Linked DNA regions of Homo sapiens. The protein of the gene in region 1 interacts with the protein of each later gene in a biochemical or structural test. Each region holds a gene or a part of one and is shown in the gene's direction. Other genes may lie near its edges.

Region 1 (7,962 bases):
TTTCTTCTTCTTCTTCTTTTTCTTATTATTTTTTTGAGACGAAGTCTTGCTCCTGTTCCCCAGGTTGGAGTGCAATTGCACGATCTCAGCTCACTGCAACCTCCACCTCCAGGTTCAAGCAATTCTCCTGCCTCAGCCTCCCCAGTAGCTGGGATTACAGGCACCTGCCACCACATCCAGCTAATTTCTGTATTTTTAGTAGAGATGGGGTTTCACCATATTGGCCAGGCTGATCTTGAACTCCTGACCTCGGGTGATCTGCCTGCCTCAGCCTCCCAAAGTGCTGGGATTACAGGCATGAGCCACCGTGCTCGGCCAAGCTGTTTTAAATGTACTTCCAGAAGAACAAAACAAAACAAAAAACCTCAGAGCCGAAGATTTTAGCTCATTTAGTTTAAAGAGAATGTCTACCACACTGTTTAATGGCAATGCCAGTTGCTAACACCAAACTAATCAGCCAAGTAAGAGTTACTTTTTCAGAGAAATACAATATTCCAGTTGGAATGTCAACTCATGTCCCCATTTTATTTCTAAATTCTAATTATAAAATAGCAATAAGCTGCAGAGCCTTGCAGGAGCTTGTTTGGATGAAACAAGGTACTCTCATCTTCAGTATTTCTCCTTTGTTCTTGGTTTTGCTCTCAACCCAAGATTGGTATTCTTTAATAATGAATACAGAATGAGGCAGTAAGGTCATCTCATGAAAATTTTTATCATTTTGAGAATTCAGAATACTGCAACACAGGACCGGTTTTAACATAAGGCATTACCCTTAACAGATACATGTATAAATGTAAGAGACTCTGAAAGACTGAGATTTCCCACTGTGGTCCCTCCACATCCCTGTCCCTACAGCTAATCTTCCTCACATCATCTTGCTCATGACCTTGGCCCCAAACTGTTCCTCCTCAACCTCTTGATAAAATCCAAGATGACCTAACAATGGCTGCTAATATCGCAGAATAACTCCTCCCTCTTCGGAGATCCACTGACCAACTGTTCCTGAAAAGAGACAAACTCCAGGTGACTCCCTGCATCCCCCATATACAATTCCAGGTGACTCCCTGCATCCCCCTTATACAAAGTTCTACCTCCTTCCCCTCAAATTAGAATGCTCTTTTGGAACCTTTCATGCTTAGCTTTTTTTTTTTTTTTGGAGATGGAGTTTCGCTCTTGCTGCCCAGGCTGGAGTGCAATGGCACGATCTCAGCTTACTGCGACTTCTGCCTCCCAGGTTCAAGTGATTCTCCTGCCTCAGCCTCCCAAGTAGCTAGGATTACAGGCATGCGCCACCACACCCAGCTAATTTTGTATTTTTAGTACAGACAGGGTTTCTTCATGTTGGTCAGGCTGGTCTTGAACTCCCGAATGAAGGTTTATTTTTTGCTCTGGCTGGTTTTCTTCAATGTAAGACCAGGAAAGATAGGAAGGTCTATCCAATGCCTTAATTAATGGAGGCTTCACTAACATGGGTAATTTGAATTGTCTCTTTTGTCTGGACACCCTGGAGGATTTTCCACCTTCTCTTTCAAGGCAATACAACATAAAAGCACTCAGGATGCGTGAGAGTATGCCGTTCTTCATTAAAGTGGGAGAAGGACAATTGTGAACAGGATGTAGGAAAAGATAAGCAGCATATTATATACTACTTTGCTACCCTGACCACAGGAGCTTTGTTAAGAACAGTTTTTGGAAGGAAAACATGGAAGTCAAGAATTGGAAAATTGATTCCTTTGGAATTATTTGCCTACTCCAGTTTGGAGAGCGCTGGTCTAGCATGACTAGCCCACAATTGTAAGGAAAGAAGTCACCAAGAGCAGTGTTCTGTTGAAAAGCAGAATCAGGCCCACAAATATAGCAGCTACAATGTTATCAAACAGCAAACATAAATCCATATATTTAAAGTGTTCACAGAAATAGAGTGGTTAAAAATATCAGTAACAAGAAACTATCAGAAATGGCCAGGCCAATATGAAAACCAAAAGAGAACACTAAAATAAAAAATTAAAGTAGAAATTCAATAAAAGGGTTAAACAATAAAATATAGGGAGGTGAAGATAAACCTCAAGAAATTACACAGAATGCAGCACAGAAAGACAAAGAGATAAAAAAAAATGACAGAATCAAGAGACAAGGAAGTTAAATGGGAGAAGTGCAAAACATGTCTAATCAAACTTTTATGAGAGAATAGAAATATAAGCAATATTTGAACAAATAATAGTAGAGAAAATTTTCCAAAATTGATTAAAAACACCCATCTACAGATGTAGAAAGCCAAAGTCCCAAACAAATACACGAAAAGAAATGAAAGCCTATAAAATCAGAAGGTTAAGTCCTAAGAGATTCATACAATGATTGATAACATTTTTAAATTAAGAACTTCTGAACATCAAAGGTCTTCAGAGTGAAAAATCAAACTGAAATGGGAGAAGATATTTACAACACATATAACAAAGGATTAACATCTAACATTATTAAGACAAGACTGTGACAGATAAATGGGCAAAAGCAATAAACAAGTATTTCAAAACCGAATCACAAATGGTTAATTAACATATGAAAAGATGCTAAACCTCATTAAGACTCAGAGAATTGCAGATTTCGCTCCAATGAGACACCACCATTTCACACCCACCAGATTGTCAAAAATTAAAAAGTTTAATAACATCAAATGTGATAGGCATATTAGTGTTCATTTTATTATTCCTTAAACTGTCTGCACATTACATATGCTTTTATATGTACATGTTTCATAACTAAAATTGTTAAGTGTCACCTGAGCAATAAAAATATTTCTTCATAAGCCTGATGAGAGCAGTTTCAGTGAAATACTGGGCATGAAAACCAGACTGCATGGGCTGAAAGGCTCTACAAGATAAAGGCGTAAAGCTAACTTATGGACAACTATTTCAAACTTACCTATAAGGCTGGAAAAGCAGAGCTGCAACTTTAGGGAATGATATGGTGAGAGTTTATGTTATATTTTTAAATAAAGGAAACTGGATTAGGTTTAGAAAAATCTAGAGGGAAAGGACGACAGTGAGTAAGGTGTCCCTGGTTTGTCACAAAGATACATGATACAGGGATCGGGAACAGGAATTTCCTTTAGGGATGAGAGATTCTTTGACCTTATCCCATCACTCCCAAGCCCCATCCACTCCAGTCACAATAGTCTACTTACTCCTCCTTCCAGCAAGCCTCTACTTCGGGACTTTTATAACCTCTATGGAGAATACTCTTTCCCAGATGGTGCAAGGTATGCCTTTCACTCTTTTATTTCCCCAAATGTCAATTCAGTGAAGTGTTCCTGACCACTATGAAACTGAAATCCCATCTGCACTCCCTGCCACCACTACTCCTGATACTCTTATTCCTTTTCCTTGCTCTATTTGTCTTCATAAGCTTTTAATACTCTATGTATGATAGACTCTATATTGTTGAAACTCTCTACCTCCATTGTATGTAAGCTCCAAAAATGCAGCAAATGTAGTCACAGCGCCTACTAATGCTTGATACAAAGGTAGCTCAATGAACACATACTGAATGAATATGGACCCTGCTTGAGGAAACTGAAGAACAAGTATAATAAAAATGATGCTGTAAAATTTGAACAAAATGAAGTAATGCACAGAGAATAATCAATTTGCTGCCCACAGAAGTGGTGACATTTGGGTTAGATCTTGAATCATGAGTTTGCCAAGTGCAAGAAAAAGGTGCACATTCCAAGAGAGTGGAAGATGGTAGGTCTGAAAAGGCCTTGCACATTTGAGAAACAGGGTACATTTGGAGTATGGCAGAGATAACAGTGACCAGATTTTAGCTAACCTTACAATATACACAACAATGGACGCATTATATCCAACTTCTCAACTCTAAATATCCTTTTCAGAATTATAATTGTCCAGTTACTTGTTTTATTTGCAGTAAAGTTAAGAGTACAGAATACAAAATAAAGTTAACACAGAATTACTGGCACTCCCTTTACTCACTACAAGTTTGAGCAGAGTTAACCTATATTTTTTTTAATCAAACTGTAAATTCAACGTATAACACTCAAAGTGAAAATACTGCTTTCAAAGGTCTCAACAGCGGGTATTATTCAAAGAAGTCAAAACTAAAAATTCTGCATGGTAGGAGAGAGCAGCTGGGTGGGGAAAGGTCAAATTCAACTGCTTATTTAGTAGCAGATACTCCCCATTTAACCAAATGAGTTTCTGATTGGGCTTGCATGCTGTCATAAATAATATTCACTTATTACTATGTTTTCAACTAGTCTATCGTCCTTTTATCCACATCACTCCTTCTTTCGGACACTCACCTTCGTTTTAAACCTAACTCAATTTATTTTCAGGATTCCTATTTGAGACAAGAAGCTCTTGTGTGTACACACACAGAGAAAACCTTGGAAGATTATATTCCACAGTTCAAGAGCCTGTGTAGTCAGTACTGGAGCATTTAAGCACAAGATAGGAGAAGCAGTGGACACCATGGTGTTTTGGGATTCCTACTGCCAGGGGGTGGGAACCCAGGGAGTTCCCTGGGTAGGCTCGAGGTCAAAGCTCAGGTTTAAAGCGAGGGGGGCGGGGCATGCCCCAAGAACCTCAGGGAGGTGTGTGGGCCCTAAAATGCAACTGGGAAAGAAAGGGCGCGGCCACTCGGAAAGACTCACAGTAATAAGCCACCACAGGGTCTCGCTTGTCATGCTCCTGAGCCGTCCTCAGATGATGCTGTATGCTCTTGAACTGTGCGGGGAGCGGGGGCAGCGGTGCAAGCGCGGCCATCTCTACTCCGAACTCACCACTTCCTACTCGCGCTCCACCGGCACTTCCGCTTCCGTCTGGGCGGTAGCGCGCACGAGCGTTCAGAGCAAATGCTGCCCACTCTTCCGTTGCTCAGCGACGTCAAGTCAACTACGGATCCCCAGCTGGGACAACCTCAGGGTGCTTGGCTCTCGGCGGTTAGAACCCACAGAAGACCCGAGCATTTTGGCGCTTATGCCGCGCATGGCGCTAGCGCTCTCTGCTGGTAGGAGGAAGGGTTTTTGTTTTGTTTTGCTTTTTTGTTTGGTTTGTTGTTTGTGGCAAAAGGAAGGATAGAAAAGGAAAAACAAGAAAATAATGTATGTTGACTGGGAGAAAGTATAAAGGCGAGAATTGCCTTTGGCGTCATTCAGGAATTACCACTTCCAGTTAATATGCCACATTAATATTCCATATAGCAGTGTCCTTTAGAAGCCTTTTTGATTTTAGAAACTTTAATTTCAATACTTGCATGAGAGAGAAATAATGTGTTTAAATTGTAAATTAAATTTTTCTATGTTGACATACTGGATAAAATAATCAGATTTCGCGCCAAATTAAGCTAAACATATGAAGCTTAAAGAAGATTGAACTTTTGTTCTCAGCTGGCTAGTACGTATTTTAGTGAATGAATAATCTGTAGATCACCTTTTTTTTTTCTGGAGAGTGATTAACAATTTGTAAAGTATTTTCATATTTATTATCTTGTCTTAATGTAAGATAGGGTGTTTGGGACGTTTTCAACGCTGGTAACTCTTAACCATTGTACAGTAGGCATCACTTTTCCTTCTACCCTCAATGACTTCAATTCTCTTCCTCTCCTCTCCATCCCTTACTTATATCTTTCAGGACTGTACACTTTATTTACTTCCTCCAATAACCTTCTTTATTTTATCTCAGTCCTCAGTTTTGACAATTCATCTTAAAACTAGTTTTCACTGAAATCACACTATCCCCAAGAGCCAAAATCTCCAGCTCGGAAATTCCCCTCTGCCTACTATTTTCTGATCACTCTCTCACCCCCAGAAGAAACCGCTCCATGTCCTCATATTATCCCACTCCACATACGTTGCCTAGACCTATTTGCAAAGTCCATCATCTTATTCTGGGTCGGGCTTTTTTACTCAGCCTGAAACTCAGTTCTGTCTTCTTCCCCAATCTCAGCGGCATATTTCCTACCACTGGAGAATGTATGGTTTCTTTCTCTTTCTCTTACTCCCACTATTTGGACTTTCCAGTCAAAAGTTGCTAGATTGGTAGAGAAATCAATGAAGAAAAGCAGAGTTGGATAACCATAACTGTTTTCTTTCTATACTCACAACTTTTCATTTATTTGTTTCCTATTACTTCTTGATTCTCAACCGCAGCTGCCCTTAAAGATCAACTTTAAAGCCCACTCCAGGCATTCTCACTTAATTGTTCTAGGTGGGATCCTAAATGTCAGTATCTTTAAAAGGTCCTCATGTAATTTTAATGTTACGTCTAGGGTTAAGGACCAGTGCTGTAGTCCACAGATGGTGTTTCAAACTTCTCTCGCTCTATTCAAGCTAGGCACTCAGCCCCAATTTCCTTGGTCTACAACAGCATTTCCTGCTATTGAGATTAAGGCCACCACCAGATATGAATTATTTTGCCTTGCCTCTACCACAACTTAAAGTAATAATAACTAGCTAGCAGCATTTGCTGAGCATCAACTATGTATCATGCATGTTTCTAGGGTCTTTATATTAATTTATTTAATTTGCACCACAACCCTATGAGGAACATATCATTATTATTTTACAGATGAGAAAAATAAGACACATAGAATCTAGATAACTTGCACTAGGTCACAGCCAGGAAGGATGAGTATTCCACATTAAAATCTAGGTATTTTGGTTTCAGAGCCTGTGCACCTAGCCATTACTACTTGACTATGATGTCTTTCTAGATCTTATGTTTTATCTTTTCTCTATTCCATCATCTTATGTCTGAGAAACAAATGTTCCTCTTCCTGGTAGAAGGCTGCACCCTCCTGTTACTCTCCTGATCTCCCCCTTCAGAAGTGAATTTTGCCACTCTTTCTCATTTGCATACATTCATGTGTACTCTTATTTGCATACCCTCATGAGCAGGACTGAGGGAAAAATAAGAAAGTGAAATGGTTGGAGTTGGATTTTACTCTCTGATCTGCCAACACATGCTCTTTTCTTTTCTTTCTTTTCTCCTTCCTTCCTTCTTTTTTTCTTTCTTTTTTTTTTTTTTTTTTTAGACAGGTTCTCACTCTGTCACCTAAGCTGGAGTGCAGCACACTATCAGAGCTCGCTGCAGTCTTGGACTCCTGGGCTCAAGGATCTTCTTGCCTCAGCCTCCTGAGTAACTGGGACCACAGGCACATAACACTATGGCTAATTATTATTATTTTGTTGCCTAGGCAGGTCTTGAACTCTTAGTCTCAAGTGATACTCCTGCCTCGGCCTCCCAAAGTGCTGAGATTACAGACAAGAGCCTCATGCTCTCTTCTTTCTAAATATGCTAACCCTTTCATGAGATGATAATTGATTTGATGGAGAACAGTACAGAGACAGTGTTAGTGTAACACACATTGAAATTATGCTATAAAACAAATATTAATGACTGTGAGGTTGCTTTTTCTTGTTTTACTATGATATTTTACTAGAAAGACCTACATTCTTCTTCTCCATTCATCTCAGACCAGTTTCTGAAGGATCTGACATCACCCTCTAGGACTGGGCTAGAACCTTGGCAAGTAAGGGGAGGGCAGAGCTGTAGAACAAAATAGGGGGTGAGGGCAACCATAGGAAGAAGAAAATGGAGAGAAACTAGAGCTGACAGGTGTTTTGATGGGAAAAAATGTTTTACACCATACCCTACATACACACATGTATGTGTGATCATCTGACAATAAAAATATTCTGTGTCCGTTTGGTCAGAACCATCTTGTTGGCAAATGACAGGGCATCAGTCAATGTAATCAGGATAATATATATATCTATAGCTGTATCTTTTTAAGATACTGTATGTGGTAGAAATTTGGCTTCCAGTATCATGAGACTAACATCCTATTATTTTAGCATCCCCCCCAAGTAGAAATAATTTTTCCTTAAATTTTCCGCAGAAGAATGATAGGGAAGACCCTGAAAACTTGGCCAGGACCATTTGC
Region 2 (7,230 bases), on another chromosome or scaffold:
AGGTATTTTCTTTTTTTCAAATATTGCCTTTAAGAAAACATTTTGTTAGCCGGGCGCAGTGGAAGCTGAGACAGGAGAATTGCTTGAGCCTGAGAGGTAGAGGTTGCAGTGAGCTGAAATCATGCCATTGCACTCCAGCCTGGGCAACAGAGCAAGACCTTGTCTCAAAAAAAAATAAATAAATAAAAATTAAAAAAAAAAACTTTTGTATTTTGGCAATTTTGATTTACTAAAGATTTCCTTCTTGAGGTTACTGTTCTGATTTTATAGGTAATCCCTATGCGTTCCCTCTGAGTTTAAGAAATTGTATCCAATATCCCTGATTTTCCCTTAAAGATTCTGCTGTTTTCCTGGTTCTCTGGTCCCTTCTTCACTCTGAAAGTAAAGAGTAGGGCCTGAGATATCCCAGGATGTTTCTCTTCATCTCCCCAGCCCATACAGTTGGAGATTGTGCTCAAAGATTTGCCAAAATAGAGATTTTACACCAAGCCTGTCCAACCCGCGGCCCTCGGGCCACATGCGGCCCAGTAGGTTTTTTTTTTTTTTTTTTTTTTTTTTTTTTTTTTTTTTTTTGAGACGGAGTTTCTCTCTTTTTGCCCAGGTTGGAGTGCAATGGCACGATCTCGGCTCACTGCAATCTCCGCCTCCTGGGTTCAAGAGATTCTCCTGCCTCAGCCTCCCGAGTAGCTGGGACTACAGGCACCCGCCACCACACCCGGCTAATTTTTTGTATTTTTAGTAGAGACGGGGTTTCACCATGTTAGCCAGGATGGTCTCGGTCTCCTGACCTCGTGATCCATCCGCCTCAGCCTCCCAAAGTGCTGAGATTACAGGCGTGAGCCACCACGTCCGGCCACGGCCCAGTAGCTTTGGATGTAGCCCAACACACATTCGTAAGCTTTCCTAAAGCAGTAAGAGATTATTTTGTGTGTGACTTTTTTTTTTTTTTAAGCTCATCGGCTATCATTAATGTTAGTGTATTTTATGTGTGGCCCAAGACAATTCCTCTTCCAATGTGGCCCAGGGAAGCCAAAAGATTGAACACCCCTGTTTTACACATCCTGTTGTGACAACTCTAGGTTTCCTGTCATTTATTTTCTTTTTCTTTCTTTCTTTCTTTCTTTTTTTTTTTTTTTGTGGCGGAGTTTTGCACTTGTTGCCCAGGCTGGAGTGCAGTAGTGCGATCTTGGCTCACTGCCGCCCTGACCTCCCAGGTTCAAGTGATTCTCCTTCCTCGGCCTCCTGAGTACCTGGGATTACAGGTGCGTTGCCATCACGCCCGGTTAATTTTTGTATTTTTAGTAGAGATGAGGTTTCACCATGTTGGCCAGGTTGGTCTCGAACTCCTGCCTCAGGTGATCCGCCCATCTCAGCCTCCCAAAGTGCTAAGATTATAGGTGCGAGCCCTGGCTCCCGGCTGTAATATCCATTCTTAATCGCTATTTTTGATGAAGCAATTTTTTTATTAAAAAACTTGGTGTACTTTAAATATTTTCCTGGTGTTAGCTATGATAGGATTTGCCATGTATCTTTCACCCTTTTAGTTACCCCATGGGTTGTTTTGTGAACCTGCCTCACATTTTCTGTGCATGTCCTTGAATGTTGTAGAATCCTAGGAGGGTCGAGAGTGGGTTCTGAAGAGCTTCCCCACGTACCTCCATTCAATTCAATGCTAGCCTTTCCCCATGGAGTGGAGGCCTTTGGACTTCTCTTGCCACCAGAGTGGACTTAGGGAACAGGCAGTTGGCATTTGAGGTCCTCATGCTAAACTTAGAGCCTAGCACTCCCTTGAGCAAGCCACCTTCTCCCCTGTGCCTCCCATTTTTTTCCCTAAGGTGAGTGCTCCTAAGTCTGTGGAGGTGCTCCCCTGCTGTTTTCTCCAGGGTCCTCAGAGGCCCCCCCCCTTTTTTTTCTATAGTAGGCTGACAGAGCAAATGGTTCCAAGGGTGCCTGGGGCCAGCCTCAGAGCTGTGGCTGCAGCTGTGAACCCAGGCTGTGTCAGAGGAAGCTTGGCTTAAGTATAAATAACCTTAGCAGAACTCAAGGTCCAGTCACCTGTGGAAGAGAGGTGAAACTCGAAATGCAGTGCCCACTCCCTCTCCCTCCTGAGATACATAAACACAACTTGGTGTTGAAATTTGAGATGGTACAATGGGAGTGGGTGTGGTTTAGGGAGAGTTGTATCTGCCCTGCATAGATTTGGGGGCCTGATGCAGTGGTCCAGACAGACCTGAAATCTGATTCCAGTGGGACTTCTGGGAAAGTGGCTAAACCTCTTAGCCTGTTCCCACCTATAAAAATGAGGAGACAGAAACCTACCAAATAAGATTCCTTCAAGCATTTAAGTGATGCAGCACTCAATCAATACCAGCTTCTGTGTGTTCACGCTAATTTCTATTATCCATGGACTAGAGAAGATAGGATGGGGGTTTGATGGATGCAGAGGAGAGGGAGGGGGGTCACAAAGGAATGATTACCGGAAGGTGATAAGAGCTATATCTGTACACCATGGCTAAGCTGTGACAAGAAAGCAGAGAGGTGTAAATGCCAGGGTGGGAGGTGAGAAGCAAGGAGATTGGGGGGAAAGCCAGGGCCAGAAATGAAACGTCCCTGTCCTGTGTGTCATGCTCCTGGAAGCTGGGCCTCCAGCTGGGTATGACAGCCAGTTTTTCATGTGAGCTTCCCCTTCTAGGATGAGGATCCACAGAGCTAGCAACCTTGCTGAGCTAGATACTAAGCAAGAGTCCTAGAAGCAGGTCCCATTATCAAGCCAGATGGGAGTAGGTTCTGGTACGGCCACTCTGTTCCGTGTTCCAGAGGTATCCAGAGTCCAAGGGGTGGTCTGCACCCCCGCTCCTCCATCACTCTCTCCTTTGTGTACTTGTCTCTCCAATGAGATGGTTAACTCCCTTGGGAGCAAGGAATTATCTGTCGCCCCTCTTCTTGTGTCTAGTGTAGTGCTCTGAACAATGGGTTTCAGTTAATTAAGCAAACATAAATGTATTCTTCTGGAGCACAGTGTTTTCCTCTGCTCATTATATGATACCACTTATCCAGAAGTTCTTTCCAAGAAAGTCCAGACAGCTCCTGGGGAGAACAAAGTGCCAGGTGTGAGAGGGCAGGTCCTACAGAATTGTTGCTTCCGGCCACAGAGTACTTATGCTAAAACATGTAAAAGTATTAAAATTAGGGCAGTGTGGTTATTACCATTTTACAGTTGAAGAAAGTGAGGTTCAGCCGGGTCACAGCTTGTACATGGACTCCTGGGTGCAGTGCAGTCCTGGGTGCAGTGCTCTTTCCACTTTCTTGACCCAGAGGTCTGCTTCCTGCCCATAAGCCAGGCCCTCCAGCTGGATGCCCGTTCCTCAGAAGCGGCCCTTTGTCCCACCCTCCATCATTCTGCATTCCCATTCTGAGCACCTACTGTGTGCCAGAACATTTCCAGACTGTGATGCTGGCTGTGAGAGGGCAGAGAGCAAGGTGAACACGGGTCAGATTCCCCCAAAGGGCGGAGGTGATGGGGATTAGTTTATGGAAGTCCTTTGGTGCCTAGCACTTGGCTGGACACTGTAAAAATGCCTCTGTTAGCCTGGGAAACCTAGCGACATCCAGTCTCTTGGAAAGAAAAAAAAAAAAAGCCAGGCATGAAGGCGTGTGCCTGTGGTCCCAGCTTCTGGGGAGGCTGAGGCTTGAGCCCAGCCCTGGAGGTTGAGTTTGCAGTGAGCCGTGATCGCGCCACCGCACTCCAACCTGCGCGATACTGCCAGATCCTGTCTCAGAAAAAAAAAAAAAAAAAAAAAAAAAAGCCTGTTACCCGGGAGGAGAGCTCCTCGCCCGACCTCTACCCTCATGAAGAGAGGCTCAGAGGGCTGAAGTGCCTATTTGGCCGAAAGCCGTGGCAGAGTGGCAAGGCAGGGCCAGGGGAAGCGGCTCCGCCGCCGGGGCCGGGCCCCTGTTTGGCCGGTGCCCGGTCCTTAGCCTGAAGGTGGCGGGCTTCCGCCAGAAGCCCCTGGCGGAAGCGGTGCCCGCGTGCGGGCCAGAGTGTGGGTGTGCAGGTCTCTGGGCGGCCCAAAGGGGGTGCCCCTGCCTGGTAACCTAGCGGGAGGGTGGGGACGGCGGGGAGGGCGGCGGGCGCGGGGCACGGCTCCGCTGCTCAGGGCAGGCTCCGCCCCCAGGGGCGCGGATTTAAAAGGATCGAAGGCAGCCCCGGAGCCCAGCGGCCGGGAAGCGCGCCCGAACGAAGCCGCGGCCCGGGCACAGCCATGGCCCGGCGGGCGGGGGGCGCTCGGATGTTCGGCAGCCTCCTGCTCTTCGCCCTGCTCGCTGCCGGCGTCGCCCCGCTCAGCTGGGATCTCCCGGAGCCCCGCAGCCGAGCCAGCAAGATCCGAGTGCACTCGCGAGGCAACCTCTGGGCCACCGGTAAGTCTTTGGGGACGGAGCAAGCAAGCGCCCCTCATCCAGTTCAGACCCCATTTCCTTCTCAACCCTCTGGCCGCTCCTCAGCCACGGACACTAGTGTCGGAGCAGGTGGAAAACCCTGGGGCTCATCTAATTTAATAGATATGTACTTGAGACCCGGACAGGTCAGTGACTTGGCTAAGGTCGCGCAGCCAGTTTAAGACAGGGCTGGGCTAGATCCTAAATCCCACTGCCAGCCGGTGCCCCTTACCTTAGGCGAGACTTAACCGAATCTTCTAACCGCTGGTGTGTTTTTGCTGCACCTCCACTTTCCAGGCGCCTCTTCACTCTCCACTTCCTACCCTGCCCTTTTTCGTCCCTTGTCCAAGCAGCCCACACAACTAGCAGAGTTTCTCCCTGGCCCTGGACCATCCCACCTTCCTGCCAGCTGTGCCATCCTCTCTACCTGTTCAGGAAAAGCTGAGGGAGCAGGCTTTGCCACCACCCAGACACCTTTGTGGCTCCTTGGTGAGGTGGAAGCACCAAGAGGAGGAAGGTTAAGTGTCTTCCCGCTACAAGAACGGAAACGTGGGAGAGATGAGGAACTTTTCCTCTGAGGTAGGATCCTGGCTGCTTGACTTCCTTGTGCCTGGACACCTCCTTTCCAGGTCACTTCATGGGCAAGAAGAGTCTGGAGCCTTCCAGCCCATCCCCATTGGGGACAGCTCCCCACACCTCCCTGAGGGACCAGCGACTGCAGCTGAGTCATGATCTGCTCGGAATCCTCCTGCTAAAGAAGGCTCTGGGCGTGAGCCTCAGCCGCCCCGCACCCCAAATCCAGGTGAGCCGGGCCCCTGCTCCAATGTCAGGAGGGCCCAGCTGGGGCCATCCCCGGATCCTGCATGGGAGGAATTACCACCCAGTACTGTATTAGGGTGTGACTGTCTGACTAGGACATTATGGGTGTGGACCCCAGAAAGCCAGGTTTCCAGGCTTTTCCCTCTTGAGGCAGAGCTCAAAGGAGGAACAGTCCAAAGAAAGGAAGCTGACCTTCCCAGTAGACCCCATGGGGCAAGAAGTAGGGAAAGAAGTTCCCCTGACTCATCACCCAGTCTAAAGTAACAGACTGGGATCATCAGCCTTTTGGAGCAGGACCTTTCTCCCCCAGTCTACACAGTCTTGTCCCACCCATGCTGTTCCCTGCTGCATTAGTCAAGTCCACCTTTGCTGTGTCCTGTGTATGCTTGTGGCCGGAATGGGACCCTGAGGCCCAGAGAGGGAAAGAGAAGTCAGCAGCCAAGACAGAGTCTGGACCTTGTTCACCTGGACTGGAGCTCTTCCCATTCTCTCATCTGCCTCAGTATCCAGTGGTAGGGTTTAGCAACTTCAGTACATTTGACGTTCTAGGCTGAATCACTGTTTCTTGTGAGGGCTGACGTGTGCATCATGGGATGTTTGGCAGCATCCCTGGTCTCTACATACTAGATGCCAGTAGCATCTTTCCCCCCCATCAAGTTGTGACAACTGAAAAGACCTCCAGACATCACCAGATGTCTGCTGGGGGAGAGGGCCCCAAATCATTATTGGTTGTCAGTCACTGATCTATGGGATTCAAGACTCCAAAGCTGGAGCCAAGCTAGCCTCAAGGTATAGCCCCGCTGAGTGGCAACTCCTTCATTCCCTGCTCCTGGTGCTGTCCTTACTGCACACCACCCTCCCTGGTCCTGCTGCTGTGTGCAGAAGGCAGTGTGATGTGGTAGAATGTGGGTTTTGACTACAACGTGCTGGGCTCATAACCTAGCTACTTAGTAGCTGTATGACCTTAGAAATGTCCCTTAACTTCTCTAAAGCCTCAATATTCTTCACCCATAAAATGAAGATAATAAGGCCCATCTCCCATTAAATGAGACCATTTATGTCAAATGCTCAGCATGGTGCCTGGCTCATAGACAGCCCTTAGTAGATGCGAGCTCTTATCAGTCTGTGAGCTCCCTGGCGGCACCTGTTGTAGACTCGCCTTCATATCCCCCAGTGTGCCTAGCATATAGTGTGTGCATTTTGAAGGGAGAGGCATTCCCTAGAAAAGGTCCAACCCAGCCTCAACCAACATCCCTGACTTCCTGAGGCACAGAACCAGCAGCCCCTGAGGACCTCAGATGTAAGGCCTAGGAGCTTGGGCTGGCTGAGTCTGAAGGGAAACAATGTCACCTCTAATGCCCTTGGTTTTGAAGCTCTGACACATGCAGACCAACTAGAGAATCTCAGAAGCAGCAGTGCCTACGTCTGGGGCTTCAGAGTGAGGTCTGGGGCAGAGCTGGGGTGGGGGAGTGAGGACGCTGACACTAGCCCAGCACCAAGCACTGTATTTGGATTTTCTTCCACGATCTTCTTTGACTGTCATGACCACCCTGGGTGGTTGGGGCTGTGTTCTGAGAAAACTACTGCCCCGACCCCTCCAAGGCAATTCAGGGTGCTCTGGGGCCTGCCTCAGCTGACAGCCTGCTGGTGCCCACCTCTGCAGACATCTGGCACTTAGGAATGGCAGGATGCCCCTATCTTTATCAGGAGCCCCTCCCTGGCTCAATTCTTCTGTATGTTTCTCTTCAGTACAGGAGGCTGCTGGTACAAATACTGCAGAAATGACACCAATAATGGGGCAGACACAACAGCGTGGCTTAGATTGTGCCCACCCAGGGAAGGTGCTGAATGGGACCCTGTTGATGGCCCCATCTGGATGTAAATCCTGAGCTCAAATCTCTGTTACTCCATTACTGTGATTTCTGGCTGGGTCACCAGAAATATCGCTGATGCAGACACAGATTATGTTCCTGC

What was found. Proteins that work in one complex are often made in the same cells at the same time.
Region 2: the proteins of NMBR (region 1) and NMB form a complex in vitro, tested with the Homo sapiens proteins (one study listed by BioGRID).

Annotation. Positions count from the first base shown.
Region 1 is NC_000006.12:142,144,107-142,152,068, reverse strand, and holds the start of NMBR (neuromedin-B receptor), read left to right. Parts: upstream 1-4,946; 5' UTR 4,947-5,025; intron 5,026-7,962. Other genes in the region: vacuolar protein sorting-associated protein VTA1 homolog, read right to left, coding at 4,670-4,781. UniProt on the Homo sapiens protein: Receptor for neuromedin-B. Contributes to the maintenance of basal sigh rate through signaling in the pre-Botzinger complex, a cluster of several thousand neurons in the ventrolateral medulla responsible for inspiration during respiratory activity.
Region 2 is NC_000015.10:84,655,185-84,662,414, reverse strand, and holds the start of NMB (neuromedin-B isoform 1 preproprotein), read left to right. Parts: upstream 1-4,215; 5' UTR 4,216-4,262; coding exon 4,263-4,419; intron 4,420-4,734; coding exon of another isoform or gene 4,735-5,015; intron 5,016-5,066; coding exon 5,067-5,239; intron 5,240-7,005; coding exon 7,006-7,041; coding exon of another isoform or gene 7,042-7,145; 3' UTR 7,146-7,230. UniProt on the Homo sapiens protein: Stimulates smooth muscle contraction. Induces sighing by acting directly on the pre-Botzinger complex, a cluster of several thousand neurons in the ventrolateral medulla responsible for inspiration during respiratory activity.